Linked DNA regions of Homo sapiens: region 2 is linked to region 1. Evidence: fine-mapped expression QTL. A gene starts in region 1. The other region holds a variant in brackets. All regions are shown on one strand. Distances are between the middles of the regions. Region 1 holds the start of WNT16 (Wnt family member 16). Region 2 has its middle 27 kb from the start of FAM3C.

Evidence for each region. PIP is the estimated chance that this variant, and not a neighbour inherited with it, causes the effect.
Region 2: its variant is the best candidate, but not a certain one, in a credible set for the expression of WNT16 in prefrontal cortex (GTEx, PIP 0.73).

What each region holds. Positions count from the first base shown.
Region 1 is chr7:121,315,660-121,332,391 of GRCh38, forward strand. It overlaps WNT16 (Wnt family member 16), which reads left to right and starts at 13,341. Exons shown (of 4, transcript NM_057168.2): 1 at 13,341-13,728; 2 at 13,908-14,158; 3 at 16,019-16,305. The coding sequence starts at 13,634.
Region 2 is chr7:121,414,960-121,431,691 of GRCh38, forward strand. No RefSeq gene overlaps it. Among named protein-coding and RNA genes, the nearest start is that of FAM3C, 27 kb to the left of the region's middle. The variant A/C (reference allele first, on the strand shown) is at 9,245.

The DNA.
Region 1 (16,732 bases):
ATTTTCCATTACCTTCCCAAATCCTATAAAAGGGCCCCACCCCTATCTCCCTTCCTGACTCTCTTTTCGGACTCAGCCCGCCTGCACCCAGGTGAAATAAACAGCCATATTGCTCACACAAAGGCTGTTTGGTGGTCTCTTCACATGGACGCGCATGAAATTTGGTGCCGTGACTCGGATTGGGGGACCTCCCTTGGGAGATCAATCCCCCGTCCTTCTGCTCTTTGCTCCGTGAGAAAGATCCACCTATGACCTCAGGTCCTCAGACCGACCAGCCCAAGAAACATCTCACCAATTTCAAATCCGGTAAGTGGCCTCTTTTTACTCTCTTCTCCAACTTCCCTCACTATCCCTCAACCTCTTTCTCCTTTCAATCTTGGCGCTACACTTCAATCTCTCCCTTCTCTTAATTTCAATTCCTTCCATTTTCTGGTAGAGACAAAAGAGACACGTTTTATCTGTGGACCCAAAACTCCGGCACCGGTCACGGACTGGGAAGGCAGCCTTCTCTTGGTGTTTAATCATTGCAGGGACACCTCTCTGATTATACACCCACGTTTCAAGGGTGTCAGACCACGCAGGGACGCCTGCCTCAGTCCTTCACCCTTAGCGGCAAGTCCCGCTTTTCTGGGGAAGGGGCAAGTACCCCAACCCCTTCTCTCCTTGTCTCTACCCCTTCCCTGCTTTTCCGGGGACAGGGTAAGTACCCCAACCCCTTCTCTCCTCATCTCTACCCCTTCTCTGCTTTTCCGGGGACAGGGCAAGTACCCCAACCCCTTCTCTCCTTGTCTCTACCCCTTCTCTGCTTGTCTCTACCCCTTCCCTGCTTTTCCGGGGACAGGGCAAGTACCCCAACCCCTTCTCTCCTTGTCTCTACCCCTTCTCTGCTTGTCTCTACCCCTTCTCTGCTTTTCCGGGGACAGGGCAAGTACCCCAACCCCTTCTCTCCTTGTCTCTACCCCTTCTCTGCTTTTCCGGGGACAGGGTAAGTAGCCCAAGCCCTTCTCTCCTTGTCTCTACCCCCTTCTCTGCCTTTCCTGGGGCAGGGGCAAGTACCCCTCAACCCCTTCTCCTTCACCCTTAGCAGCAAGTCCCGCTTTTCTAGGGGACAAGAACCCCCAAACCCCTTCCCTCCGTGTCTCTACGCTCTCTTTTCTCTGGGTTTGCTTCCTTCAGTATGGGCAACCTTCCACCCTCCATTCCTCCTTCTTCTCCCTTAGCCTGTGTGCTCAAGAACTTAAAACCTCTTCAGCTTACACCTGACCTAAAACCTAAATGCCTTATTTTCTTCTGCAATGCCGCTTGACCCCAATACAAACTCGACAGTAGTTCCAAATAGCTGGAAAACGGCACTTTCAATTTTTCCATCCTACAAGATCTAAATAATTCTTGTCATAAAATGGGCAAATGGTCTGAGGTGCCTGACGTCCAGGCATTCTTTTACACATCAGTCCCTTCCTAGTCTCTGTGCCCAGTGCAACTCGTCCCAAATCTTCCTTCTTTCCCTCCCGCCTGTCCCCTCAGTCCCAACCCCAAGCATCGCTGAGTCTTTCTAATCTTCCTTTTCTACAGACCCATCTGACCTCTCCCCTCCTCTCCAGCCCAAGCTAGGTCCCAATTCTTCCTCAGCCTCCGCTCCTCCACCCTGTAATCTTTTGATCGCTTCCCCTCCTCACACCTGGTCTGGCTTACAGTTTCGTTCTGTGACTAGCCCTAGTCCACCTTCCCAGCAATTTATTCTTAAAAAGGTGGCTGGAGCCAAAGGTATAGTCAACATTAATGCTCCTTTTTCTTTATCCCAAATGAGATAGTGTTTAGGCTGTTTTTCATCAAATATAAAAACCCAGCCCAGTTCATTGCTCGTTTGGCAGCAACCCTGAGACTCTTTACAGCCCTAGACCCTAAAAGGTCAAAAGGCCGTCTTATTCTCAAAATACATTTTATTACCCAATCTGCTCCCGACATTAAATAAAACTCCAAAAATTAAATTCCGGCCCTCAAACCCCACAACAGGATTTAATTAACCTCGCCTTCAAGGTGTACAATAATAGAAAAAAGTTGCAATTCCTTGCCTCCACTGTGAGACAAACCCCAGCCACATCTCCAGCACACAAGAACTTCCAAACGCCTGAACCGCAGCAGCCAGGCGTTCCTCCAGAACCTCCTCCCCCAGGAGCTTGCTACAAGTGCCAGAAATCTATCTGACCACCAGGCCAAGGAATGCCTGCAGCCCAGGATTCCTCCTAAGCCGTGTCCCATCTTTGCGGGACCCCACTGGAAATCGGACTGTTCAACTCACCTGGCAGACACTCCCAGAGCCCCTGGAACTCTGGCCCAAGGCTTTCTGACCGACTCCTTCTCGGCTTAGTGGCTGAAGACTGATGCTGCCCGATTGCCTCGGAAGCCCCGTAGACCATCACGGACACCGAGCTTTGGGTAACTCTCACAGTGGAAGGTAAGTCCGTCCCCTTCTTAATCAATACGGAGGCTACCCACTCCACATTACCTTCTTTTCAAGGGCCTGTTTCCCTTGCCTCCATAACTGTTGTGGGTATTGATGGCCAGGCTTCTAAACCTCTTAAAACTCCCCAACTCTGGTGCCAACTTAGACAGTACTCTTTTAAGCACTCCTTTTTAGTTATCCCCACCTGCCCAGTTCCCTTATTAGGCTGAGACACTTTAACTAAATTATCTGCTTCCCTGACTATTCCTGGACTACAGCTATATCTCATTGCCGCCCTTCTTTCCAATCCAAAGCCTCCTTTGCGTCCTCCTCTTGTATCCCCCCACCTTAACCCACAAGTATAAGATACCTCTACTCCCTCCTTGGCGACCGATCATGTACCCCTTACCATCTCATTAAAACCTAATCACCCTTACCCCACTCAACGCCAATATCCCATCCCGCAGCACGCTTTAAAAAGATTAAAGCCTGCTACAGCATGGCCTTTTAAAGCCTATAAACTCTCCTTACAATTCCCCCATTTTACCTGTCCTAAAACCAGACAAGCCTTACAAGTTAGTTCAGGATCTGTGCCTTATCAACCAAATTGTTTTGCCTAGCCACTCCATGGTGCCAAACCTATATACTCTCCTATCCTCAATACCTGCCTCTACAACCCATTATTCTGTTCTAGATCTCAAACATGCTTTCTTTACTATTCCTTTGCACCCTTAATCCCAGCCTCTCTTCGCTTTCACTTGGACTGACCCTGACACCCATCAAGCTCAGCAAATTACCTAGGCTGTACTGCCACAAAGCTTCACAGACAGCCCCCATTACTTCAATCAAGCCCAAATTTCTTCCTCATCTGTTACCTATCTCGACATAATTCTCATAAAAACACATGTGCTCTCCCTGCCAATTGGGTCCGACTGATCTCTCAAACTCAAGCACCTTCTACAAAACAACAACTCCTTTCCTTCCTAGGCATGGTTAGCATGGTCAGAATTCTTACACAAGAGCCAGGACCACACCCTGTAGCCTTTCTGTCCAAACAACTTGACCTTACTGTTTTAGCCTAGCCCTCATGTCTGCATGCAGTGGCTGCCACTGCTTTAATACTTTTAGAGGCCCTCAAAATCACAAACTATGCTCAACTCACTCTCTACAGTTCTCATAACTTCCAAAATCTATTTTCTTCCTCATACCTGACGCATATGCTTTCTGCTTCCCGGCTCCTTCAGGTATACTCACTCTTTGTTGAGTCTCCCACAATTACCGTTGTTCCTGGCCCAGACTTCAATCCGGCCTCTCACATTATTCCTGATACCACACCTGACCCCCATTACTGTATCTCTCTGATCCACCTGACATTCACCCCATTTCCCCAAATTTCCTTCTTTCCTGTTCCTCACCCTGATCACGCTTGATTTATTGATGGCGGTTCCACCAGGCCTAATCACCACACACCAGCAAAGGCAGGTTATGCTATAGTACAAGCCACTAACTCGCCTCTTAGAACCTCTCATTTCCTTTCCATTGTGGAAATCTATCCTCAAGGAAATAACTTCTCAGTGTTCCATCTGCTATTCTACTACTCCTCAGGGATTATTCAGGCCCCCCTCCCTTCCCTACACATCAAGCTCGAGGATTTGCCCCGCCCAGGACTGGCAAATTAGCTTTACTCAACATGCCCTGAGTCAGATAACTAAAATACCTCTTAGTCTAGGTAGACACTTTCACTGGATAGGTAGAGGCCTTTCCTATAGGGTCTGAGAAGGCCACCGCAGTCATTTCTTCCCTTCTGTCAGACATAATTCCTCAGTTTAGCCTTCCCACCTCAATACAGTCTGATAACAGGTGAGCCTTTATTAGTAAAATCAGCCAAGCAGTTTTTCAGGCTCTTAGTATTCAGTGAAACCTTTATATCCCTTATGGTCCTCCGTCTTCAAGAAAAGTAGAATGGACTAAAGGTCTTTTAAAAACACACCTCACCAAGCTCAGCCACCAACTTAAAAAGGACTGGACAATACTTTTACCACTTTCCCTTCTCAGAATTCAGGCCTGTCTTTGGAATGCTACAGGGTACAGCCCATTTAAGCTCCTGTATAGACGCTCCTTTTTATTAGGCCCCAGTCTCATTCCAGACACCAGACCAACTTAGACTGTGCCCAAAAAAACTTGTCATCCCTACTATCTTCAGTCTAGTCATACTCCTATTCACCGTTCTCAACTACTCATACATGCCCTGCTCTTGTTTACACTGCCGGTTTACACTGTTTTTCCAAGCCATCACAGCTGATATCTCCTGGCGCTATCCCCAAACTGCCACTCTTAACTCTTGAAGTAAATAAATAATCTTTGCTGGCAGGACTATGCTGAATCTCCTTAGGCACTCTCTAATCAGATATCCTGAGTCGTCCCAATTCTTAGACCTTTTATACCTGTTTTTCTCCTTCTGTTATTCCATTTAGTTTCTCAATTCATCCAAAACCGTATCCAGGCCATCACCAATCATTCTATATGATAAATGTTTCTTCTAACAATCCCACAATATCACCCCTTGCCACAAGACCTCCCTTCAGCTTAATCTCTCCCACTCTAGGTTCCCATGCCGCCCCTAATCCTGCTTGAAGCAGCCCTTGGAAATATCACCCATTCTCTCTCCATACCACCCCCCAAAAATTTTCGCCGCCCCAACACTTCAACACTATTTTGTTTTACTTGTCTTATTAATATAAGAAGGCAGGAATGTCAGGCCTCTGAGCCCAGGCCAGGCCATCGCATCCCCTGTGACTTGCATGTATACATCCAGATGGCCTAAAGTAACTGAAGATCCACAAAGAAGTAAAAACAGCCTTAACTGATGACATTCCACCATTGTGATTTGTTCCTGCCCCACCCTAACTGATCAATGTACTTTGTAATCTCCCCCACCCTTAAGAAGGTTCTTTGTAATTCTCCCCACCCTTGAGAATGTACTTTGTGAGATCCACCCCTGCCCACCAGAGAACAACCGCCTTTGACTGTAATTTTCCATTACCTTCCCAAATCCTATAAAAGGGCCCCATCCCTATCTCCCTTCCTGACTCTCTTTTTGGACTCAGCCCGCCTGCACCCAGGTGAAATAAACAGCCATATTGCTCACACAAAGCCTGTTTGGTGGTCTCTTCACACGGACGCGCATGAAAGATACCATCTCACACCAGTTAGAATAGAGATCATTAAAGAGTCAGGAAACAACAGATGCTGGAGAGGATGTGGAGAAATAGGAATGCTTTTACAGTGTTGGTGGGAATGTAAATTAGTTCAACCATTGCGGAAGACAGTGTGGCAATTCCTTCAAGGATCTAGAACCAGAAATACCATTTGACCCAGCAATCCCATTACTGGGTATATACCTAAAGGATTATAAATCATTCTACTGTTAAGACACATGCATGCACACGTATGTTTTTTGCTGCACTGTTCACAATAGCAAAGACTTGGAACCAACCCAAATGCCCATCAATGATAGACTGGATAAAGAAAATGTGGCACATATACACTATGAAGTACTATGCAGCCATAAGAAAAGGATGAGTTCATGTCCTTTGCAGGGACATGGATGAAGCTGGAAACCATCATTCTCAGCAAACTAACACAAGAACAGAAAATCAAACACTGCATGTTCTCATTCATAAGTGGGAATTGAACAATGAGACACATGGACACAGGGAGGGGAACATCATACACCAGGGGGTATGTCATGGGGGTTTGGGGGTTAGGGGAGGGATAGCATTAGGAGAAATACCCAATGTAGATGATGGGTTGATGGGTGCAGCAAACTACCCTGGCACGTGTATACCTATGTAACAAACCTGCCCATTCTGCACACGTATCCCAGAACTTAAAGTATAATTTTAAAAAAGATGTTTTATAATCTAATTGGTGACTGACAACTAAGGTACGTTAGACCATTAGCAAAAGTAAATTAAGTGATAAGTATTATGGTAGGGACCTCAGGTAATATAGGAATTGGGCAGAGAGAGACGTTAACATGGTTAACTCCAAAAGTGGTATGACCTAGAAAATGGGTAGATAGGTTTGAGTAAGTGGAAGGAGAGAAAAGAAATTTCTAGGCATAGACGCAGTGTTTCTCAAGAAACTGAAAGACAAATATGCAGGTCCTGCTTATGGAAAAGGGAAGACAGAAGGTGTCTTGCTTAGGAAGAATGAGTACAAGGATATAGAGTGAATTTAATCAGAAATGACAGTTATGGACAAATCCTGAATAAAGGATTTTAGAAGTCAAACCAAAGGGTTTAAAACTGATATAGGAGTAAATAAATTATTAAAGATTTTAGGGAGGAAAGTGAAAATATTAAGGTCAAGTTTAAATGTGAACAATGAGATATAAGTAAACACCAAATGGCATTTGTTGCTTGGCCAGACTTAAAAGCCTCCATTTCAACTTGCTCCCACTAATAATGAGGACAGTAACCAAAGGTTAGACATTCGAAAAATGACCTTGGATACAAAAGCAGTGTCAGCAATTGTTTACTTTTGACAGGCATTTGTTGACTGAAAGACATTTATGACATGACGTTAACTATAATTATGCAGACCAACGGATAGAATAGGATAGATGCAGTCAATTTTAAATGGCTTTTCTCTTGAAGTTGTTTGTTTTTGAGATTGGGTCTCACTCTATCACCCAGGCTGGAATGCAATGGTGCTAACATGACTCTCTGCTGCCTCAACATCCAGGGCTCAGGCAATCTTCCTGCCTCATCCTTCTAAGTAGCTGAGACCAGAGGTGCACACCAACACACCCAGCTAATTTTTAAATTATTTGTTGAGATGGGGTCTCCCTATGTTGCACAGGCTGGTCTCAAACTCCTGGGCTCAAGTGATCCTCCTGCCTCAGCCTCCCAAAGTAAGGGATTACAGGTGTGAGCCACCACGCCTGGCCCCCTTGAAGTTTTAATTATTCTATCTTAGGAAAATCCCTCAAGAAGGGCAAATTTGTTTTTTCCATTATAGGCAGCCTAGTGATTACTCCATAAATATTACTTTAAACAATGTAAATGCCAGATTCTTAATTTTCCTGACAACATTAAAACATTAAAATCATTCATTAATGAAGTTGCTTTATTTGGAAAAAATTACTGGGAAAAAGTATTTAAAGAATCAAAACTATCAATATATTCCAGTTTTGTGCATTTTATTTACTTTTACCCTCTGAATGAAGTGACCACTCTTATTTGTCAAGGAATGTTTTTACTTTTATTCCCTTATTCCAAAAAAATTGCATAATTCCTACAAAATACCACTTAAAAAAATCTTGAGGTACCCTGTTTTTTATTTTAAGTTTTTTAAGGATTGCTGGGGAAATGCTGGTAAGAGATAAGTCACTTTCTACTGACACTTTACAAGCCTTCTTCAACCTTAATTGCTAGGATGAGTAAACAAAAAACTTTTAACTTCTGTGGTTGTGGAAATTTAAAAAGCAAAGCATCATCCCTTTCCAACTCCTGCTCTTTCTCCTGGGACTATCGCTGGTGTCTCCTCTGTTCCTCCAAGTCTGTCATTCCTGCGGGTTTTTCTGGCCACTAAAGGACAGCAGGCTATCCAGAATGCCATTCTCCACCCCCTCCTAAGAGCCAGTGGTCACAAGCCTGTGCTCTGTTCCACACTTGTAGCATCCAGGTGGAATTTAAAATAGAATGGATGGGGACCCAGTTATGTAAAAAGTCACCTCTGGTCTTCTGTTCTATCATGGGAGTTAAGACCAGCTGGGGTGCTTCTGGTATCAGTTTCCAGCACATAAGTCTCTGTGATCTGCAGCAGAAATTCTTACAACAGGGCCCTTAGAAGTCTCGTCCTCTGATGGGCTGCCAGAGGCAGAGTCCAAGGCATATCTCTGCAGGCAGACTTTTTTTGCTGAGTTTCCCAGGGACTGAGAGAAAACTATCAGAAGGAAGAGGCTCCCCTGTATTCTACAACTAGAAATCTACAACTGTCTTGGGCGGAAGATGGGATTTATTGCTGTCTAGCTACTTATCTGGTTCAGTTGGCTCAGCGGATTGGAGATGATAACAGTCACAGATTCAGCATCTTGAGAGAGCTCTTTTGAGTGAAATGAGTATGCTTGAAATCTGGCTCTCCCCTCCCTAATTCCTTTTCCCAGAATACAGCTCAGAGCACCTTACCTCCAGCTAGGAAAAAGAGTTTAAGTGTATGCCCTCTATGTGGACTCCAGAGACTACAGGTGCTTGAGTAACCAATGCAAACTTGCAGTCATATGGTGATTTTCTTAACATCACTAGTCAAAATCTAGGCAGCTGGGCTCAGATCATGAAATGACATAATATTAGCTCTCATTTATGTGTTTATTAAATGATTAATGATATGATCTTTACAACATTTTATGCATATGGACACTAGAAGCTTAAAAAGTTTATACAGTACAGTAAACTTTAGGTCTCACATTCTACTGGTCAGTGAATATTTTGTCGTCTCTTCAATCAAAATATAATAAATAGGAAATTAAGCTCCTGCTTGCTGAGAAAGAAATCAATAATTTAAAATGTGCAGTTGTATACATGTTTGGAATTGATCTTTTACTTCATTCATCAAGTCTAAATAGCATAATCCCCTCCGATGAGAGTAGAGTTGAATGCTTTATATTAATAGACATAAATTCGATTATGAAAGAGCTCCTCAACTTCATATGTCAGGATAAAATATCTGTAACTTCTTATATTCTCCAAATAAAATTTCATGTGATCTGACAAGATTATATTTTAAAATTCAACCATTTTAAATGACTTCTGCAATTAAAATAGATTCATTTTCCTTGAAATCCAGAAGCAAAAGTGAAGCTGGAGATATTAAGACAAGATGGGCGCCAAAAAACCCTGGCTTATGCCACCTTGGGGACTGAACCATCTTTCAGGTAGACAAGTTCCTGTCAATGGCTAAGGTTTCCTCCTCCTGCAGTCCCCCAGCAAATGCAGTTTCCCCCTCCCCACCATGTGCGCGCGCGCACACACACACACACACACACACACACACACACACACACACACACGTACCACTCTCCTCCCTCCAGCCCTATGGTAGCTCCAGTAAGAGATTCAGATCTGAAAAAGAAATTTTGATAATTTTGCAAATGAAAAAACTGAGACTCAAAGTTGAAATGAGTAGTCCACGATCATCACCTGCTGACAGGAGCCCCGGTTACCCAACCCAACCCAGTGCTCTTTCCACTGCCCCTCTCAGCCTGCAAAAACCACAGAGGGCAAAGCCAGAAAGATGGAAAGGCACCCATGCAGCTCACCACTTGCCTCAGGGAGACCCTCTTCACAGGGGCTTCTCAAAAGACCTCCCTATGGTGGGTTTTGTTTATTTTTGGAGAACAAAACAACTTTTTCAATGTTTCAATGGAGAGATCTGTGAATTGTGACGTAAGGAACCATAGACACCAGTAAAAAATTTTGACCCAAAGACACGGTAATCTGAGTTTTAAGATTTGGGGATTTGATCAGGGAAAAAAAATTTTACATATATATATATATAACACCTAACATATCTCTCTCTATACACACACACTATATATATGTTTTGAATTAGGCATGCAGAAGTATGTTGTAGTGAAAAAAACAGGGTCTTGGCCAGGTGCCATGGATCATGCCTATAATCCCAGCAGTTTGGGAGGCTGAGGCAGGAGGATTGTTTGAGCCAGGAATTTGAGACCAGTCTGGGCAACATAGTGAGACCCCTGTCTCTACACAAAATAAAAAATACAGCTGAATATAACGGTGCACACTTGTAGTCCCAGCTACTCAGGAGGCTGAGGGTGAGGATCGCTTGTGCCTGGGAGTTGAGGCTGCAGTGAGTCATGATAGAGCCACTACACTCCAACCTGGGCAATAGAATGATACCTCATCTCAAAAAAAAAAAAAAAAAAAAAAAAAAAGGAGGGGCCTCTAAAGGTTGATTGTTTTTGAGTAACCTCGAGCAAGTTTCTTAATCTCCCCAAATTAATTTCCTCATCTGTAAAGTGAGTATCAATTTTGTATAGAGAAAGATGGAGAATGAGACAGAGACAGAGAGACAAATAAAGACAGTAAGAGGGATTTGGGAGTGTATGGCAGCTCTCAGAACATGAAAGTTCACAATGCCTGGAACAAAATTATCATTCAAATATCTGTTCACTGAATGAAAAATCTGCTTCCTCAGCTGGGTCAGCTCCTAGAAATATGTCTCCTTTGTTTTGGAGATATGGACAGAATGACCCCTAAGGCTCTAGCCCATACAAAAGAGATGCAAGACCACTCACGCCCTAAAATTGTGTCTTGTGTTTGAAAATGTTTGACACAGTGGTCTCTGACTCTCAGGACAGAATACCCTCTGAGTGCACCCCAAAGGCTTTATCTGGATGCGTAGATGGTGCTAGATTCCCAGAATAATAATGAAGGTAACATTCAAGTGTCTCCTCCCCACTCTGATCCCCAAGACTGAAATAAGTAATCTTCCTTTGTGTGTTCACAGCACACTCTACTTTGTACATTTATTGCACGTATTATAGCTGCATGCTCCCTTGTCTGTCTTGCCAAGTAGACTGTGAATTCCATGATCATTTGAGTAAGTGCTATCCCCACTTTCTAACCCATAACAGAGACTCAATATATGTTTTTGATTTTTTAAAAAATCAAACACCTCTTTAAAACATCTACCACCGTTGGCCCTAAAATCAGCCTAAGGTATGGATATTGTCCAGCACCCCCAACCCGGAGATTGCCTCCCCACTTCCAATTCCCCTTGAAATGAAGTAAAAACTGTAGTTCCAGCATTTAGGCCTCTTACATATCCACTCAGGATGTTCCTCATTGTTAATTCACTCAATAAATTTTGTTCAAAAACAGGATCTTATGTACTAGGCCCAATGGCAGGGGTACAGCAATGAATCCGCCATTGTCCCTCTTGGAGAAGCTCACAGAATAAAGTGAGCTTGGATGAAGGCTCTGACTTTCAGAGAGGCCACTAGCCGTTAGCCAAAATATTTCTGGATCAGTATCTACATCCTATCATCAACTTGACTCCTCGACTCTTTAAAATGTGGCTTTAGAACCTGGTACATAGTGTACACTCAATAAACATTTGTTGGATAAGGGAGTGAATGGGATAGGATGAAAATTTCAGTGAGCTTTTATTGCTCACTGATTGATATAGGAGATAAGCAGCTAATGCTATCTAATCCTTTTTTTTTTTTTTTTTTTGAGTCGGAGTCTCACTGTGTGCCATAGGCTGGAGTGCAGTGGCGCTATCTCAACTCACTGCAACCTCCACCTCCTAGGTTCAAGCAATTCTCCTGTCTTAGCCTCCCGAGTAGCTGGGATTACAGGCATGCACCACCACACCCAAATAATTTTGTATTTTTAGCAGGGACAGGGTTTCACCATGTTGGCCATGCTGGTCTTGAACTCCTGACCTCTGGTGATCCGCCCATCTTGGCCTCCAAAAGTGCTGGGATTACAGGTGTGAGCCACTGCACCTGGCCCCAAATCCTTTATTTAAGTAATTTTGGCTTTGGGTACCCACTGAGCTGATACGTCCACCATGGGAATGTATTAACACTTCAAAAGATCTCTAAGGACAGATAATGCTTCTTAGAAACATTTCTTGTGTCTAATTAGGTGAGGCAGGCTTTCCCAATACCACAGCTAAACACGTTGCACTTGCCTTCAGATAACTCTCGGAGACCTTCCATCCTACAAAACACTGATTAACTAACCTTCCAAATCTGCCAGTAACTGGAACACTTCCTGCTTCTGAACTATCTTCGGCTCCAGGGAGTACCCTGCTAGATTCTTTAATCTCTCTTACTGATCATCTAAACGTATTTTCTTTTACACTTGTGTATGGTTTATTTGTACAGTTGTGGGAAGAGAGCTTGTCTTTATAAATTCCCACAGGACTAGGCACACAGCAGGTATTTAATAAGTACGTTTTTAAAAATGTGTCTTCCATGTGTAGCCCTGTCCTGCAGGGACGCATCGGGTAGGTGGCAAAGGGGTGCCCAATCCTAGCGAACTTTCAACTGAGGTTGGGGGAGAAGGGCAGGGACCCTCCCACCATGAGAATCGTAAGGTAGGACTGGAGAAAAAGATCAGAGCACATCTCTCATGTACTCTAGAACTCTCCAGAAACCTCTCACTTTCTTTGTCCCCATCTTCTGCAGGGGACTTACAGCGTTCTCAGGGACTGCAGGAAATAAGACAAATAGGGAAAAGGAAATCACAGAGCACGATTGAAATATGGCAGATGAGATGCTAGACTGGAATCTTCTCTTTCGCTCAAAATAAATGCATACATAAATGACAGTGATTGTAAGCCTGACAGCACTTCACCCACTCTCTAAAGTCTCCTGACAGTGGGACCTCAAGCAGGGGACTGGAAGGTTAATTTGTTCGGTACCAACTCTGACTCAAAAAGATTATTCTCCTGTGAGGTGAAGGAGAAGAAAAAAAGGTCAGTGACATTTTCCAGCCACTACACCCAGAGGGTAACCCAGATGTTGGTGGGATGGGTGGGACTCATCAAACCCACGCTTTCCCCCAAGGTTGCTAAGACAGAGCGTCCTGTTAGTCTTCGGGTTGAATCAACCCCACAACGACCCGTTCTAAGGAGACTGTGACAGCAGGAAAGGTCATGACACACCCAGGTCTGGACACGCTGTCCCTGAGGCCAGTGCCCGGAGCGCCCCCCGCGGAGCCGCTCTCCACCAATAAGAGCCTGAGGTCCCGAGATGATGAGATGCGGGGCCGCTGCTCAGCCAATCAGGCTCCAGGCGCGGCCAGGGGGAGGAGATGGGAGGAGAGGCCGGGGGCGATGGAGACGCGGATACATCAACAGAAGTTTCTCACCTAGGAATGCGAGGGGCGCTCCCGCATCTCCTGCACATCTCCACCCCTGCGCAGGAGGAGATCCCCAGGCTGCTCTCTCCATCTCTCCTACAGCTCCCTGCAAACGAGGGGGAAGCTGCTGAGAGTCCCTATCACTGCTGGCCTTTTAATGTTGTATGCAAGGAGGAAGAGGGCGAGGGATAACTTGGTGCTGGACAACTGACCTGCGGCCCGAAGGGCCTCTGGGGAGGGGGTGCAAAAGAGGAGCGGCTGGGCTGGGGGACTCCATGCGGGGGCGATGGACAGGGCGGCGCTCCTGGGACTGGCCCGCTTGTGCGCGCTGTGGGCAGCCCTGCTCGTGCTGTTCCCCTACGGAGCCCAAGGAAACTGGATGTGAGTATGGAGGTGGCAGGGAAGCATCGGGTAGGTGGCAAAAGGGGTGCCCAATCCTAGGGAACTTTCAACTGAGGCTGGGGGAGAAGGGCGGGGACCCTTAGACGAGTGACCTAATTTTTCGGAAAACATCTGGAATTGGGGAGCGGCTTAACGCTACGGGCGGCCGTGTCTTACAGGTGGTTGGGCATTGCCTCCTTCGGGGTTCCAGAGAAGCTGGGCTGCGCCAATTTGCCGCTGAACAGCCGCCAGAAGGAGCTGTGCAAGAGGAAACCGTACCTGCTGCCGAGCATCCGAGAGGGCGCCCGGCTGGGCATTCAGGAGTGCGGGAGCCAGTTCAGACACGAGAGATGGAACTGCATGATCACCGCCGCCGCCACTACCGCCCCGATGGGCGCCAGCCCCCTCTTTGGCTACGAGCTGAGCAGCGGTGAGTCCTGGGTCCTTAGGGGTTGGTGGGGGACGGAAGGCGACAACTCCTCCACCGGTTCCTGCAAATAAAGTAAATAGTGCTACGTGGTCCTGTAGCTCTCTAAGTTCCAGAAGAAGCCCTTTAGTGCACGGGGATTGAGAGCTACAAAGGCCAGACCTGGGGAGCAGGTGCGAGCCTGGAGGGAGGTGACTCCCCAGTTCCAGAGCGGAGCTCTAGGGGCTGGAGCTCTTCCTCTTTCCTGCGGTGCCCCGCCAGAGTTGGAAAAAAAACTCTAATTCTCCTACCCCGCCGACCCCCTCGGACCCCGTAGCGCCCCCCTACGTGGGTGACCAGCTGGAGAAACATGATGTCGGCAGCGGGGAATGCGGCTGCCGCATCTGCTTTGATTTAACCAACTCCGCTGCGCACCAAACCCCGGACAAGTGGCTAATTGCAGCGAAGCCCCACCTTTATTGGCTCCTAGGAGCACCGAGTTGACAGAATAATGGTGACTTTTAAAGCGACTGTCCGCGACCACCCAACGTGCGGCTAACCTGAGCAGGACCACTTGTGCGCTTCTCGTTTCTTTGGCTTTTCTATCTTTCCCTCCTCGGCGCACTCCCGCGGCGCGGGAAGCTGCAGGAAAACAAAGTTCCACTTCCACGTGCGTAGTGACTTGGTAAGGATAAAGGTACAGGGAGCCAGGATTGTTCCTGGAATATCAACAGATCCAAAGAATGTTAGGACTGGGGCGCTGAAGGATGCGCTGTCGTTTTTCATGTTCATTTCCGTTCCCCCTCCGCCTTTGACCCTTGTCCACGCAGTCCCTGCGCGCACCCCCGCCGAGCCGCGCACCTCCCCCGCGGCGTTCTGGCCGGCACGCCCTTCCGAAGGAGCCCTGGTCCCCGTAGAGAGAAAAAAAAAAAAAAAAAAAAAAGAGACAGAAAGAAAAAAAATAGATGTGTTTTTCACAGTTGCTGAAATGCATCAGCTGTTGAAAAGGTTTATTGGACAGCGGGCATGAAACTGTTTCTACTCCAAACTAAACATCTGGAAAGAAAAAAAAAAAGTCGCCTGCTGATTCCCTTCTAGTCCATGTTATTAATGTTTTAATGGACTTTAATTTTCAAAGATTTTAGCTCAAACTCTACTGCAGGTGTGCTAAATGCATAATTTTCAATATTCAATATTTTTAATAGAATTATGTTTTTGCTAGTGACATTTTAATTATCTTACCTTTCATTGCCTTTAAGACTGTAAGAGGAGTAGCTAATACTATATAAAATGTTTAACTGTTTCATGTTAATGTGAGACTAATCTTTAATGTGAAAATATACGGTACCGTTTACTAATTGCTTTGGTCTTTCCTTAATTTTAATTTTCATTCTGACACGTATTATTTATGCAAACAAAAATCACACCAAAATGTTCAGCTTGTGTTCTGTGAGAGCACATTTTAAATTTCAAAAGAAAAGCAATCTAGTGTTCTTTGGGTGTTGTATTACCGTTTACAGTATCTATGCAAAGAATTTTTAATTCAGCATGTATTACTGAGCTATGACTGTCAACTGTGCACTGAACTGGGTGCAAACATACATTTCAAATTTAAAAAATAAAGAGATGATTTTAAGGTAAAGGGACAATGTATGACCATACAGTATATGACAATCTCTTCAAGTGGAATACTGAAAATTAATGTTGCTTTTTAAGAGACTAGAACAAGAGCAAATCTTCCTTTCTAAATATGTACTCGTTAACGCATCCATTGTAAGCAACTGAAAAATTACTTGTCCAGTAAGATCATGAGTAGGAGGCTTTCTTCTGAACATAAACAGAAGTTGCCTGGTTCTCTAATTTAGCAATTTATATTTTTTCTAGGCACCAAAGAGACAGCATTTATTTATGCTGTGATGGCTGCAGGCCTGGTGCATTCTGTGACCAGGTCATGCAGTGCAGGCAACATGACAGAGTGTTCCTGTGACACCACCTTGCAGAACGGCGGCTCAGCAAGTGAAGGCTGGCACTGGGGGGGCTGCTCCGATGATGTCCAGTATGGCATGTGGTTCAGCAGAAAGTTCCTAGATTTCCCCATCGGAAACACCACGGGCAAAGAAAACAAAGTACTATTAGCAATGAACCTACATAACAATGAAGCTGGAAGGCAGGTATGTATTAGAAAATGGAATAATCAAAACCCAGTGCTGTTAGGTAAATAACTAGGATTACACATCTGCATGAAACTGTCCAAATGACTTAAAAACCAAACACTGGCAGCCCTCAAGTGGGATCCTGAAAATTAATATTGTTTTTAAAAGACTACAGCAATAGAAAATTATCCTTTCTAAATATGTATGCGTTAAAGCATCCATGGTAAGCAATTGAAAAATTCCTTCTCTGGTAAGAGGATGAATAGGAGGCTTTGATTAGAATAAATATACGTGTGTGTGTGTGTGTATACACATTTGCACATATATTACAAATGTGTATTATACAAATATGTATATACCCTTTCATGAATATATACTAACCACAATTTTGGTTCTCTAACTGATATGAGTTAAACCGTGTTATAGCATGTGTTTGTGGTTGTAT
Region 2 (16,732 bases), 99 kb after region 1:
TTTTTCTCAAAAAATATTGTGATCACTAATTATTAGATTTTTCAATGCTTTTAGCAATTTTTCTTCTGGTATTATCAACTAGAAGCCATCCTGAACACACACACACACACACACACACACACACACACACACACACATGAGTTCGCTTCCACATGTCTTTCTGATGTACTTATACCAGTGGTATTTTTCATTTAGTTTCAATCTTCCCAATTTATCAAGGTAAAACATTAAAACACAATACTAAAAGGAATTAAATCAGTATTTAGTATTTATGAGTATGTAAGCAATGTTTGAATCTGAACCAAATGTATTTTCTTTCTTTTTAAATTTTCCTCCTAGTTTTTTTAAAAAAATTGATTAGTTTTCTATATATTTATCACTATTTCATTTCCAAGCTTCCCTAGAGAAATGTAAACCTCTAGCTTACCAACACATCATATAATGTATCATTTTCAATTTTTAAAATCAATCTTTAGACCGGGTGCGGTGGCTCACCCCTGTAATCCCAGCACTTTGGGAGGCTGAGGTGGGCGGATCACGAGGTCAGGAGATCAAGACCATCCTGGCTAACATGGTGAAACCTCGTCTCTACTAAAAATACCAAAAAATTAGCCCAGCGTGGTGGCAGGCACCTGCAGCCCCAGCTACTCGGGAGGCTGAGGCAGGAGAATGGCGTGAACCCGGGAGACGGAGCTTGTAGTGAGCTGAGATCATGCCATTGCACTCCAGCCTGGGCGACAGAGCGAGACTCCATCTCAAAACAAAACAAAACAAAAAACAAAAACAAACAAACAAACAATAAAATCAATCTTTAATAGACTTTGTTTTTTAGAGTTGTTTTAGGTTCATAGTAAAACTGAAAGGAAAATACAGAGTCCCCATATATCCCCATCCCCAACACATGCACAAGATCCCTCATTATCAACATCCCACAATACAGTTATAATTGATGAATTTACAATAATACATCATCACCCCAAACACATAGTTAATATTTGGGTTCAGTCTTGTTGTTGTACATTCTATGGGTTTTGACAAAAGTATAGTATGTATCCACCATTATAGCAGCATACAGAACAGTTCCATTGCTCTAAAAATCCTCTGTGCTCCACCTATTCATTCTCTTCTCCACCATTACTCCTGGCAACCACTGACATTTTTACTATTTCCATAGTTTTGTCTTTTCCAGAATGGCATATTGTTGGAATTATACAGTATATAGCCTTTTCAGATTGACTTCTTTCACTTATTAATATATATTTAAATTTCTTCCATGTCTTTTCATGGCTTAATATCTCATTTCTTCTTAGCACTGAATAATATTCTATTGTCTGGATACATCACAGTTAATTTATTCATTTAGCCACTAAAGGATATCTTGGTGCCTTCCAAGTTTTCACAAGTGTGAATAAGGCTGCCATAAATGACTGTCCAAACTTCAGTGTTGGCATAATTTTTCAATTCATTTGGGTAAATGTTAAGGAGCATAATTTACAGATCATACAGTAAGATTATATTGTTTTTTAAGACATTGCCAAACTGTCTTCCAAAGGGCTGCACTAGTTTTGCATTCCCATCCACAATGCAAGAGAGTTCCTTTTGCTCTACATTCTTGCCAGCACGTGATGTCAGTGTGCTGAATTTTGCCCATTCTAATATATTTGTAGTGGTATCTCATTGTCATCTTAATTTGAAATTCCCTAATGACATCTGATGTTGAACATCTTTTCATATGCTTATTTGCCACTTTAATATCTTCTTGGATGAGCTATCTTTTCAGGTCTTTTGGCCATGTTTCAATCAGGTTTTCTTATTATTGAGTTAAGACCTCTTTGCTTGTTTTGGATAATAGTTCTTTTCAGATATGATATGTCTTTTGTAAATTTTTTTCCTTGTCTGTGACTTGTCTTCTCATTCTCTTGTCAGTGTTTTCACAGAGTAGAAGTTCTTCATTTTAATGAAGAAGTTAATTTTAATTCTTTAACTTTAATTCTTTCTTTAATGTATTGTTTAGGTGTTGTATATAAAAAGTCACCACCACCTCCAAGGTCATCTAGATTTTCTCCTGTTATCTTTTAAGAGTTTATAGTTTTGTGTTTTACATTTAAGTCTATGATCCATTTTGAGTTTGTTTTGGTGAAGAATGTAAGGTTTGTGTCTAGAAGGTTGACTTTTTATTTTTTATTTTGATTTTGCATATGGATATAGTTGTTCCATCACTGTTTTCAAAAACCTATCTTTACTCTGTTGTATTGCTTTTGCTTTTTTTTTTTCCAAAGATTAGGTGACTATATTTATGTGGGTCTATTTCTGGATTCTCCATTCTGTTCAACTGATCTATTTGTCTCTCCAATACCACACTGCCTTAATACTGTTACTTTATGGTAAATTTTAAACTGTCAGTTCCTTGACTCAGTTCTTCTCCTTTAAGATTGAGTTGCCTATTCTGGGTCTTTTACCTCTCCATATAAACTTTAGAATACATTTGTCAATATCCACAAGATAACTTGCTGATATTGAGATTGCATTGAATCTACAGATAAGCTGGGGAAAAAACTGGTATCTTGACAATATTGAATCTTTGTATCACAAACATGGAACGTCTCTACATTTATTAAAGTTTTTATTTATTTCATCAGTGTTTCATAGTTTTTCTCATACATCTTGTACACATTTTGTTCATTTTATACCTAAGTATTTCATTTTTAAGGGTGCTAATGTAAATAGTAATTAGTTTTTAATTTTAAATCCCACTTGTTCATTGCTGGTACATAGGAAAGCACTTGACTTTTATACATAACCTTTTATCCTGAAACCTTGCTATAAATGTCTATTTGTTCCAGGAGCGTTTTTTTTTTTGTGATTTTTTCAGATTTTCTACAAATGATTGTGTTATCTGTGAACAAAGTGTTTCTTCCCTTCCAATCTGTATACTTTTTATTTCATTTGTATACCATTTATTTAATTTTATCGCATTAGTTAGGCCTTCCAGTACAATGCTGAAAAGAACTGGTGACAGGGGCATCCTTGCCTTGTTCCTGATCTTATCAGGAAGCTTCAAGTTTTCTCACCATTGAATATGATGTTAACTGTAGGGCTTTTATATTTTTTCAATCGAGTTGACGAAGTTCCTCTGTATTGCTAGTTTGCTAAGTTTCTCTTAAATCATAAATAGGTGTTATGTGTTATTTGGTTGTAGTGTGTGTGTGTGTGTGTGTGTGTGTGTGTGTGTGTGTGTAGATAGATATATAGATAGATAGATATAGAGATACAGATAGATATAAGTATATAGATAGATATAGATATAGATAGATATAGATATACCTATATCTAGATATATAGATACACAAACACACACACACACACTACAGCCAAATAGGGGTTTTCCCAAGAATGCAATTCTGGTTCAACATTAAAAAATTAATGTATCTGTCACATCAACAGGCTAAAGAAGAAAAATTACATGGTATCATAATCTGCAGCTCAGTCTTTATCAATAGATGAAGAAAAAACGTTTGAGAAAATCTAACACCTATTTATGACACCTATTTAAGACATCTAACACCTATATATAGATATATAATATACATATATATAATGTGTATATATGTACACATTATGTATATATATACACATTATGTATATACACATATATATTATACACTGTTGGATTTAAATTGCTAATATTTTGCTAAAGATTTTCACATCAATATTCATGAGAACTATTGGTCTGTAGTTCTCTTTTCTCATAATGCCTTTGTCAAGTTTTGGTATTAGGGCAACACTTGTCTCATAGAGTGAATTAACAGGTATTCCCTCTGCTTCTATCTTCTAAAAGAGATTTTGGAGAATTGTTAGAATTTCTTCCTTAAATGTTTAGTAAAATTCACCTGCGAACCCTCTGGGTCTGGTGCTCTCTGTTTTGGAAGATTATTATTGATTCAGTTTATTTAATAAATTTAAGCCTATCCAGATTATCTATTTCTCCTGTGAGTTTTGGCAGACTGTGTCTTTCAAGGGACTTAGGAAATCATTGCAAAGGCTGTTCCATTGGAGAACAGCTTCCCCTGCCTTGGGCCTCTTCTTGAGTTCACCACTACTAGAAAATGACAAGGTCATCCTGTTGATTGCCTTCATCTGTGTTCAGAGCTCTCTGTAGACTGACTACAGCACTTACAGCTACTTTGAAGTGGTCACCATTTTCAACTTGATAATGATCCTCACCATTTTTTCTGATCCACCTCTTCTGCCTGCTCACCTGTATCTGTTGGCCCTTGTCAGAACTTCTGCACTATTTAATCAGTACCATTTTTTCTGATCCACCTGTTCTGCATGCTCACCTATATCTGCTGGCCCCTATCAGAACTTTGCACTATTTAATCACTACCCTGCTCCTCCTAATCACCTCCATCATGGTGGCCTCCAAGCTTTATAACTAGAACTGGACTGATAGCAGGAGTGGATAATCAAAGTCCAGCCAACTCAGTTGTAAATATAAACCCACACGTGGGCATTGAAGCTGCCTTGAGTGAGAAGGGCCGAGGGTGGTGACCCAGAGGCTTGGTGGCCTGGCCTGCCCTGGACCCAACCTAGGGAACCCGAGGCTGGCGGCTGGGCCTCTCTGGGCTTCACCTCTGTACCTGAGTGAGGATGAGGTGATTGGGTCAGATGACTACCCAAGCTCCTTGCTGGCCACAGACATACAGGGAATGAGCACAGAGTTGAGAAACAGAAAGAATTGCCCAAGTGATAGGCCTTTGGCCTGTAACTTTCTCTCCTCTCTCTCCCCTGTATATCTTTGATTTTGTTGCCACCTTTCCTGCATGACAAGCATATGGCTGTCCTACAAGATCTCACGTGTAACCCAAGCCACAGATGTAGCTATCTGATGAGGCAACAGTCTCTGGACCTTATGGAGCTCTATAGAAAGGAGGACCAGTGACCCTAGGCAAGGCTCTGGACCTGTGTTCCTGTGCCAAAGTCCTGCCAGGCTGGCAGGCACCAACACGGGCCTGCACTTTGGTCCTGCTTTCCCAAGAAGCTGGTTCCCTGAGCTCCTGGGAGGAGCCTCTTTCTCCAGTCTTCCTTGGAGAACATTCCTCCTCTTCTGGGAAAGGAAAGCAGTCTCAAGGAAAATCTGTTCTCTCCTTTCTTGCTTCCAGAACCATGTCAGGTACTCATGAGCCCTCTTAGCACAACTGGAGGGGTTTGTGAATACTCCTGCATAAATCTCTTCTACTTCCTATTCCTCAGAGTAGTGAAGCTGCCTTAAGTGCTCTTACAGGCTGGGCATGGTGGCTCAGCCTGCAATCCCAGCACTTGGGAGGCCAAGGCAGGTGGATCACCTGAGGTCAGGAGTTCAAGACCAGCCTGGCCAACGTGGTGAAATCCCATTTCTACTAAAAATAAAAAAATGAGCCGAGTTTGGTGGCACTTGCCTGTAGTCCCATTACTTGGGAGGATGAGGCAGGAGAATTGCTTGAGCCCAGGAGGCGAAGGTTGCAATGAGCCAAGATCATGCCACTGCACTCCAGCCTGGGCGACAGAGCAAGACTCTGACAAAAAAAAAAAATATATATATATATATAGTTCTCTCACAAAAACAAAGATTTATCCATTTATCTAGCTTGTCAATCTGGTCTTGAAGATACCTTCTTTCTTAAAGTGAGGCGTGCCCTGTAGAAATGCTATGTGGTCAGCCTGTCCCCAGATAGGAGATGTAGAGTCTCCTTTCCCTGTCTCTATTTTGTTACCACTGTGCATGTGTTTGTGTGTTTTTTAATACATATTGACTTGGCCAGTTGAAAAATAAATAAATAAATAAGAACAAAAATAGCAATTTTCATGCTTTTGCACTGTCCCCTTCTTTGTTTGTATTTGCTTGGATTTCTGACTTTCTTCTAGTGCTCTCCTCAGGTGCCTGGTGACACTTGGTGTAGCTTATGTCAAAGATGGGACCATTGAAAAACTTACTGGAAGCTTTAAGTGTAGTTGTAGTGTCCCGTTTAAGTACTTCTGTTCTAAGTTGAGCTGCAGATTATGATACCAACCACAACCATATTTATTTTCTATAATATACATATAATTAATTTCTGTTCTATCCAAACTCCTGACCAAGGCTTATATAGCCCAATATAATCAGGCACTTTCCTATCTCCCTGACCTCATTTATTCCTCCCCCCTGTTTACTGTGCTTAGTCATTTTGCCTTCTTGTTCTTCAACCTGCTAGGCTGGTTCTTGCCTCATGGACTTATACCTGTTGTTATCTTTACCTGGAATTTTCTCTCCGCAGATACTGCATGGCTGCTTTATCTCATCATTCAGTTCTCTGACCACTTCTCAGTAGGAAGGCTTTACCCGACCTCCCTACTTCGATATTCAGTAGCCTCTTACTTTACTTTCTTCATTGTACAAATAGTAAGGTCATGTCACTGATTTTTTTTACTTATTTATTGTTTATCTCTGCTATGAGAATTTAAGCTCCATGAGAGCAAGGAGCTTGTTCAAATACTCTTTCCTTAGGACCTAGAGCAATGCCTACCACCCGGTAGCACTTAGTGAACATTTTGAGAGATGACAGTGTGCTGGCAGCCCTCGCAGCCCTCGCTTGCTCTGGGCACCTCCTCTGCCTGGGCTCCCACTTTCGCAGAACTTGAGGAGCCCTTCAGCCCACCACTGCACTGTGGGAACCTGTTTCTGGGCTGGCCAGGGCCAGAGCTGGCTCACTCAGCTTGCAGGGAGGTGTGGAGGAAGATACGCAAGCGGGAACCAGAGAGGCGCAAGCAAGAACTAGGGCTGCACACCCTGCTTGTGGGCCAGCTGGAGTTCCGGGTGGGCGTGGGCTTGGCGGGCACCACACTTGGAACGGCCCACTGGCCCTGCTGGCCAGGGCAATGAGGAGCTTAGCACCCAGGCCAGCAGCTGTGGAGGGTGTACTGGGTCCCCCAGCAGTGCCAGCCCACCGGCGCTGCGCTCAATTTCTTGCCGGCCCTTAGCTGCCTCCCCATGGGGCAGGGCTTGGGAACTGCAGCCAGCCATGCCTGAGCCTCCCCGCTTCCGTGGGCTCCGGTGTGGCCTGAGCCTCCCGGACAAGCACCGCCCCCTGCTCCACGGTGCCCAGTCCCATCGACCACCCAAGGGCTGAGGAGTGTGGGTGCATGGCGCGGGACTGGCAGGCAGCTCCACCTGTGGCCCCAGTGCGGGATCCACTGGGTGAAGCCAGCTGGGCTCCTGACTCTGGTGAGGACTTGGAGAACCTTTATGTCTAGCTAAGGGATTGTAAGTACACCAATCGGCACTCTGTATCTAGCTCAAGGTTTGTAAACACAGCAATCAGCACCCTGTGTCTAGCTCAGGGTTTGTGAATGCACCAATGGACACTCTGTATCCAGCTACTCTGGTGGGGACTTGGAGAACCTTTATGTCTAGCTAAGGGATTGTAAATACACCAATGGGCACTCTGTACCTAGCTCAAGGTTTGTAAACACACCAGTCAGCACCCTGTGTCTAGCTCAGGGTTTGTGAATGCACCAATCGACACACTGTATCTACCTACTCTGGTGGGGACTTGGAGAACTTCTGTGTCTACACTCTGTATCTAGCTAATCTAGTGGGGAGGTGGAGAACCTTTGTGTCTAGCTCAGGGATTGTAAATGCACCAATCAGACCACTCGGCTCTCTGTAAAATGGACCAATCAGCAGGATGTGGGTGGGGCCAGATAAGAGAATAAAAGCAGGCTGCCCGAGCCAGCAGTGGCAACCTGCTCCGGTCCCCTTCCACACTGTGGAAGCTTTGTTCTTTCGCTCTTTGCAATAAATCTTGCTGCTGCTAACTCTTTGGGTCCACGCTGCCTTTATGAGCTGTAACACTCACCATGAAGGTCTGCAGCTTCACTCCTGAAGCCAGCGAGACCACAAACCCACCGGGAGGAAAGAACAACTCCAGATGCGAGGCCTTAAGAGCTGTAACACTCACCGCTGAGGTCCACAGCTTCACTCCTGAGCCCGCGAGACTACGAACCCCACCAGAAGGAAGAAACTCCAAACACATCCGAGCATCAGAAGGAATGAACTCCGGACATGCCACCTTTAAGAACTGTAACACTCACCGCGAGGGTCCTCGACTTCCTTCTTGAAGTCAGTGAGACCAAGAACCCACCAATTCCGGACACAATTTGTTCAAAAAATGAATCAAGGGAGCACTACCATGATTAGTATAACCTCTTCCCTGGAGCATAAGTATTTCAACAAAGAAAGTACAATTGTAGGTGAGGGCACAGTCACTTCTTGAAGGCTTTATTCTAAATTATTAAATTATTTAAATACTCTATAAAGGCCTGTTATCTCATGAGAGGCCATCTTCATCACCATGTATGCCATACATATGTAGGAAATTTTGCAATAGAAATATTGTGCAGTTTCTAATTCAGTTCAGCGAAAAATATATGAGCCCTTTCTATGTCACATTTTATTTGCAAGCAAGTTTACTAAGATTATAAAATATTATCATATGAAACAACTAAGCTAATACTACTATAAGTCATGCTTAGGTTCCCATGATGACAGAAAGTTTGTTGCTAAGAATGTCAGTAAGGGCAGGGCGCGGTGGCTCACGCCTGTAATCCCAGCACTTTGGGAGGCCGAGGCGGGCGGATCACGAGGTCAGGAGCTCAAGATCATCCTGAAACCCCGGTGAAACCCCGTCTCTACTAAAAATACAAAAAATTAGCCGGGCGTGGCGGCGGGCACCTGTAGTCCCAGCTACTGGGGAGGCTGAGGCAGGAGAATGGCGTGAACCCCGGGAAGCAGAGCTTGCAGTGAGCAGAGATCGCGCCACTGCACTCCAGCCTGGGCGACAGAGCCAGACTCCAGACTCCGTCTCAGAAAAAAAAAAGAAAAAAAAAAAAAGTCAGTAACAATGATAGTAAATGGAAAAGAATGATGTCCTAAGTAATTTCATCCTGATTATCACTGCTAGTTGCATTATTGATACAGAGTAAAAATGCTTTGTGAAAACTTTTTCATATAGGTTTAGACTTTTGCAAATGCATCTTCTGTGAGCAAGTATATCTTGTTTTCTGTTCTGTCTCTTTATAATCTTTGTAATCTCTGTTTTCTCTTTAAAATTATTTTATCACACTCTAGGGTTTAGGTTATAGCTTAAGGGGTCATCCTTGCTTCCATTCTCTTCCCATGCTGATCTGGTTTTCTTACCATTGTATCATTTTATTGATTAAGAACCTA[A/C]ATTTCTGCATAAGCTGCCCTAACATACTCACTCTTTTCTCACATGGTGAAACATACATGCCAATCATCCAATTTCATCTTATTTTCTTCATGTAATATACTATTTCTGCCCCAATACATTTACTTCTGTAAATTTGAAAGGACTTCTTCTTGTTCTTGTCTTTTGAAAATGTTTTTACCCATATTTCAAGATGTTTCTTCAATCACCATAAACTTCTTTAACTAATCCAATTATTTCGCTATAAGTATTAATGTTCTGTACTAATTAGGTGAAGTATTTCATTGTCCAAATTTTCTCTCCTGTATTAGTTTTTTACATTGAATTAGAAACTCAATAAGAGAAGAAAAAAATACCACATATTCCTGTGTTTCTTCCACAAAATCAAGACATGTAACATTAAATAGAGTGCATTTGTTCTATAGTGTCTATATTACATAGGGTGAAATGGTATAATGACTTATTTTTCTCTCATGCAACAGATTAAAGGAAGGTGGTAGTTTAGACAGGTGGGCAGTTGTGGTCCATAAGATCTGTCATTCAGGGTCTTGGGCTCCTTCTAGCCAGCTGCTCTGCTCTAGGCTTTCTCTCATCTGCATGGTCCAGATTACAGGTTAGGGGAACATGAGAAGTGGAGGGGAAATCCTTCTCTTTAAGCAAGTGGAATACATTATGTCACTTGGACATATCCAGCAGCAGGGGAGTCTGATCATCTCTAGCAGGATGGGGCTGTGACAGACATAACTCTACTGTTATGAAATAAGGAGAATAGATGTTGGTAGACAATTAGCCATCAACTCCAATATTTTAAAATCAACAAGTACTATACAAACAAACTTAGCATAAGTGTGGTTTGATATTTCAGAAAAGATCTGGATGCTTTTTCTCAGGTTGATTTCATTGGGTAAACAATTATTTTAAAAGGAGAAAAATAAAATGATTTATCAACCTTAATGTATAAATATGTCAAAATCACTAGTATTTATGTATTCAAATTATAACATAAACAATTCTAAAATTGGAGAACTTAAATATTTATTGTCCCTTACTAATTTTTTACGATGTCAAAAATGTGGAACACTGAATAGTTTAATAAAATAAGCTTAATAAAATAAAAGAGAGATTGTCTCTATTAATTAAACCAAATAACTTGAAATTAAAACTCAGTATACATTTTAAGGGTCTTGACTACTTCTCCAGTTTTTACAAAATTTAAATCAACAACTAAAAGGGTATGCCATTAGAATGTGAAACAAGAAACTCCTAATAGAAGAGGGTTCTTTTGCTAGGCAAATTTTTTAATCTATTAAATCTAATTAATTCTGAGCTGGTTATTATCACCACTTGGGAAGAAGCAGCAGTCAAAATTCTTGCCAAACTGTGGGTAGATCTATATTTTTCCCAACCTACACTCTTTTTATTTTTGTCCCATAGGAGCTGTTAACAATCACTCTGAATTTATAAAACTACAGAATTGTATCCCTCTCATATTTTACCACCTTCTGTTGAAGTGATAGGTAATGTTATAGACTGAATGTTTTTGTTCCACCAAAATTTGTGTAGTGAAGACTTCGCCATCAATGTGATATCTGGAAGTGGGGCCTTGAGGAGGTGATTAGGTATAGATGAGGTTGTCAGCATGGACCTCCGTGATAGGATTATTGATATTAAAGTAAATTTAAATGGAAACCAGGCCTGAAGATTCTCTGAGCAGACTTAACCAGTGAGGCCTCATGAGTGACTTCAACCTTGCTTGATTTTCAAACATAAGCAAAACTTAGCTTGAGCTATTTCTTGTAAATGCCTCTATTAAAGAAAAACAGAATTTAAGCACTAACCATTCAGAAACGGAAAACAAACCTATAATTATGTAACTAGGAACAAGATAGACCTAATAAGGCAACTGAATAACTGTAACCAATTAAATATTTTATTTTTTTTACCTCCGTATTTTTTTCTGTAAAAGCCTCTCTCTTGCATTCCCTTGGTGGAGCTCCCAGTCCACTTCTGATTTGGAGCTTCCCAATTCATGAATTGTTTGCTCAAATAAACTCTTTAAAATGTGACTATTACTCAACTTACCATTTAAACAATGTTTTTATAAGAGGAGGAAGAAAGACTAGAACTCTCTTTTTTGTCACGTGAGGACAGAGCAAGTAGGTCGCTGTCTGCAGGACAGGAATAGAGCCCTTTCTAGGGAGCCAAATTGTCTGGCACATTGATCTTGGATTACACAGTCTCCAGAACTGTGAAAAATAAATTCCTGTTGTTTAAGCCAGTCTATGGTATTTTATTATGGTTGCCCAAGCTAAGATAGGTTAAAAAACACAACCGGTACAGAAAAGAACTGCACAAAGCAGAGATGAATTACACATTACCAGCCCACACTGCAGTGGATGGATATAAAGGGGTTAAATGATAATCTGACTTGAAGAGGGGACTCTATTTAAAAACAGAGCATCATAGTTGTGCATTCCATTTTCAGCCCAGAACCCGATTAGGGAGTGAATTTCGAAATGTACTACAAGTCTGTAATAATCAAAACAGTGTGGTGCTGGGTTGTGGATGGACACATAAATTAAGGGAATCAAACTGAGTCCAGGGGTACATTCATTTACCTATGGTCAAGAGATTTTTGACAAATATACCAAGACCATTCAATGGAGAAAGAATAGTCTTTTTAACAAATGATGCTGGACAGATTGATAACCACATGTGAAATAATGAATTTGGATTCCTATTGATACCATATACACAAATTAATTCCAGCACTTTGGGAGGCCGAGGCAGGCGGATGACTTGAGGTGAGGAGTTCGAGACAAGCCTGGCCAACATGGTGAAACCCATCTCTACTAAAAATACAAAAATTAGCTAGGCATGGTGGTAAGCGCCTGTAATCCCAGCTACTCGGGAGACTGAGGCAGGAGATGGCTTGAACCTGGGAGGCAGAGGTTGCAGTGAGCCAAGTTCGCACCACTACTGCACTCCAGCCTGGGTGACAGAGTGAGACTCTGTCTCAAAAAAAAAAAAAAAAAAGCCCCAAATGGATCAAATACTTACATGTAAGAGCTAAGTAAAAACCTCTTAGAAGGAAACAGAGGGACAAAACTTTGTAACCTTGGGTTAGGCAATATTTTATTAAATATAACACCAAATGCACAAATATCAAAAGAGAAAATTTTGATTTCATCAAAATTAAATAATTTTGTGTGTCAAGGGACACTGCCAAGAAAATGGAAAAAAAAAAAAAAAAACGACCCAGAGAATGTAAGAGCATATTTGCAAACTATACATTTTATTAGAGTCTAATATGCAAAAGATATACTAAAAAAACTTTCATAACTCAACAACATAAAGGCAAACAATTGAAGCTGACATGGGCAAAAGTTTGAATAGCTATTTCTAGAAAGAAGATGTAGAAATGGCCAATAAGCACATGGGAAGATTTTTAAACATTTTTTTTTCTTTTTGTTGTAGAGACAGGATCTTGTCATGTTGCCCAGGCTTGTCTCAAACTCCAGGGCTCAAGCAATCCTCCCGCTTTAGCCTCCCAAAGTGCTGGGATTATAAATGTGAGCCACCACACTGGGCCAAAGATGCTTAACATTATTAACAATTAGGAAAATGCAAAGCCAAACTGCAATGAGATACCTCTTCACACTTACTAAATGGCTATAATTTTTTTTTTAAGTGGAGAAATTGGAACTTTATACATTGCTGGTGGAAATGTAATAGTACAGCAGCTGTGGAAAAGAGTTTTGTGGTTCCCCAAACAAATAAGAGAATGAAGACATATATTCACACAAAAACTTAGACACAAAGGTTCACTGTAGCACTATTCATAATAGACAAAAAGTGTAAACAACCCAAATTTCTGTCAATTGCTGAATGGATAAACAAAATGTGATATATCCATAAAATGGAATGAATGAACCTCTAAAACATTATGCAAAGTAAAAGCAGTGAGACACAAAAGGCCACATATTGTTCAATTTCATTAATATTAAATATCTGGAATAGGCAAACCCACAGAACAGAAAATAGATCAGTGGTTGCCAGAAGCTGAAGGAAGGAAGAGGGGAAGTGACTGCTTAATGGGTACAGCTTATCATTTTGGGGTAATGAAAATGTTCTGAAATTAGACAGCAGAGATGCTTGCCTAACATAGTGAATATGCTAAAGACCACTGAATAAGACACTTTAAAATAATCAAGATGGATAATTTTATGTTATGTAAATTTTATCTCATAAAGCCTTCCAAAAATATTTAGCACTTTGTCGGTCACGTATAACATAAAGCGCAACATGTATTTACTCCTTTCCAGGCAAGGATGAAGTGGTAGATGAAACTTGAGAGAACCATTATTTATTTGATTTTGTTCTTTCTCCTATTAGGAACTGCTTGTAGAGTAGAATATCAAGATCTTACTACCCCCAAACATATTTTCTATGGACACCCAAAACCCAACAAGTAAACAGTTATTTGTTTAGATTTTACTTTTTCTGTTACTGTAAATCTCTCCAGGTGATGAAAACATGTAAACTTCTTAATCAAAGATTAATTTAATAGTATGTGTTAGGATGGGCTAGATCTTTTTAGAGAGGCAAGCAACCCCAAAATTTTAGCTGCTTAAAAAGGCAAAAATTGGCTGAACACAGTGCCTGTGATCCCAGCACTTTGGAACACTGAGGAGGAAGGATCGCTTGAGTCCAGGAGTTTAAGACCAGCCCGGGCAACATAGGAAGACCTCTGCCTCTACAAAAAAATTTAAAAATTAGCTGCCATAGTGGTGTGTGTCTGTAGTCATAGCTACTCTGGAAGCTGAGGTAGGAGGATAGCTTGTGATCAGGAATGCAATGCTTCAGTGAGCCATGATTGCACCACTGCATTCCAGTCTGCGTGACAGAGCAAGACCCTGTCGCTAAAAGACAATAAATAAGTGAAATATAATGAATTTTAAAATGTGCAAGTTTATTTTTCATTCATACTATATCTCCACTAAAAGTCAGATGGATGGCTTTGTTTATCATAATTACTCAGGAATCCAGGCTACTGAAGGCCATCAGTATGGCAAGAAAACAGGGAAATCATGCATTACTCTGCAAAATTATCAAATGGAAGTGACACAGGTCACTTCTACTCACATTTCATTGGCCATAACAAGTAGCATGGGCATGTCTAACTTTAAAAAGAGGTGGGGAATGCAGTTGTTGCATATAGCTACAAACCAGAGAATTGGAAATATGTGAGTAACACTAATAACTGTTTCATAGGAATAAAAATCTCCAAACTGGGGTCCTAAATTGTGTTGAGGTAATTATGACAATGGCTTTATTTTGTATTAATTTTAAACTGACATCTGTACCATCTTATTCCCTGCTGTTTCTCTACTAGACTTTTTTTTCAGATGGCATACATTCCTTCAAATAATACTTTCAACCTTCTTAGATATGCCTTGTGAAAGGCTTATTCCTATTTGCCTAGATTTCTTTTTTTTTTTTACCCATCATTTTCCTTAAATCACTTGTCCAAACTTACACCTATAAGGGTGAGAAAAAGGGAAACAAAAAATTACCTATTCTTAAACAGTGATGAGAAGTTAGGTATGTAGGATAAGCACCCATTTAAAGAGCAAAATTACCATTCTTTAATCAAGTATCAGTTAAGAGGAAAAATAACACCCCTCCCCCCCCCACACACACAAACACAATATGAATGAAGGGAGAAATTACTGGAGGGTAAGAAATGTCAGTAGTAAGTGATGTTGTAATCAATTATTTACACATTGCCAAATCCAATGGCCAGTTCTCATTCCTCATCTTTCTTGAGCTCTCAGCAGCACCTGATGCCATAGATCATTTATCCTTCTTGAGACACCCTCTTCACTTGGCTTCTGGGACACACCATTATTGTATTTCTTCTTTCTTCTTTGTTCTTTCTTCTTTCTTCTTTCTTCTTCCTCTTCCTCTTCTTCTTCTCTTTTCAAGATTGGGCCTTGGTCTGTCGCCCAGACTAGAGTGGAGTGCAACCATCACAGCTCACTGCAGCCTCTACCTCTCAGGCTCAGGAAATCTTCCCACCTCAGCCTCCTCCATGCCCAGATAATTTTAATTTAATTTGATTTATTTATTTTTGTACAGACAAGATCTCACTACGTTGCCTAGGCTAGTCTCGAACTCCTGGGCCCAAGCAATTCTCCTGCCTGAGCCTCCCAAACTGTTGGGATTACAGGCGTGAGCCACCATGTCTGGCCTCCACTAGATATTTCTGATTAAATGTCTAGTCTCTATTTCAAGCTAATATAACCAAAACATAACTATTGATTCCTCTAGTTATGTTCCAAACATTCCCCTCCTCTGGTTCTTCCTCTCACTAAATGGCAGCTCCATTGATTGTTCAGGCCACAAATCTCTTAGTCATCCTTTACTTTTCTCTTTATCTTACAGCTCAGATTCGGGCCATCATAAAACATGGGAACATTATTTTCAAAACATAATCAGAATCTGACCACTTCTTACAACCTTCCCCACCACTCACTTGGTCCAAGCTACCTTTATCTCTTGCTCAGATGTTGCAATGTCATCAGTATATTTTTTGTGTGGCACTCAGAGTAATCCTTTTAAAAATCAGTCAGATGGTGCCACTTCCTTTAGTAGCTTCAAATCTTACCCAGAAATACAATTCAAAATTCTCATCCTTGCACAAGATAGCCATTTGGAATGCCAGAAATGCCCCATATTTTGACCTAGGTTATGTTTACATGGGTATATGTAATATATCTGGGTGTGTAAATATATGTATAAAATATATAAATGTGTGTGTATATGTAGATATATATGGAGAGATAAGTATTTATTAAGCTGTATAATTAATATGTGGGCACTTCACTATAAGTAAAACTCTCTCTCTTTATATATATATATATTTTAATTTAAGACTCTGAAAATCTGCTCTACACCATCTTGTCTCTCACCACTCACCTTCTAAAACTGTGTTCCAGTTACACTGAGTTCCTGAATATTTCTGGAACTAATGGGAAGCATGTTCCCACCTAAGGGATTTGCACTTATTGTATGCTCTATATAGAATCCTTGGAAACTAGCCTCACTTCTTATAGGTCTGCTAGAATTGTCTGAGAGGCCTTCCCTGAACTCCTACACAATGATATTTACACTATTACACTTTACCTATCTATTTATCTTGAATTTTGCAGGACAAAATCACACCAAGAAGCTGGTTTCATCATAAGAACATAACCACACACCTCACATGGATTCTCAGTGCCATCCTACAGTCTTACTTTTCTGTCTTCTTTCCCATACTCTGATTTCTTTTTCTTCAAATCTCCCCAACCCTCCTCAACTTCTCTTCACTTTGGATAATGACATCACTGTTTTACTCAAGAGAAATGGAAACTAGCAGAAAATTTTATTAGTTTCTCCACCACAAAATCTATAATTCTATTAGTAATTGAACGTGTCTTCACTAT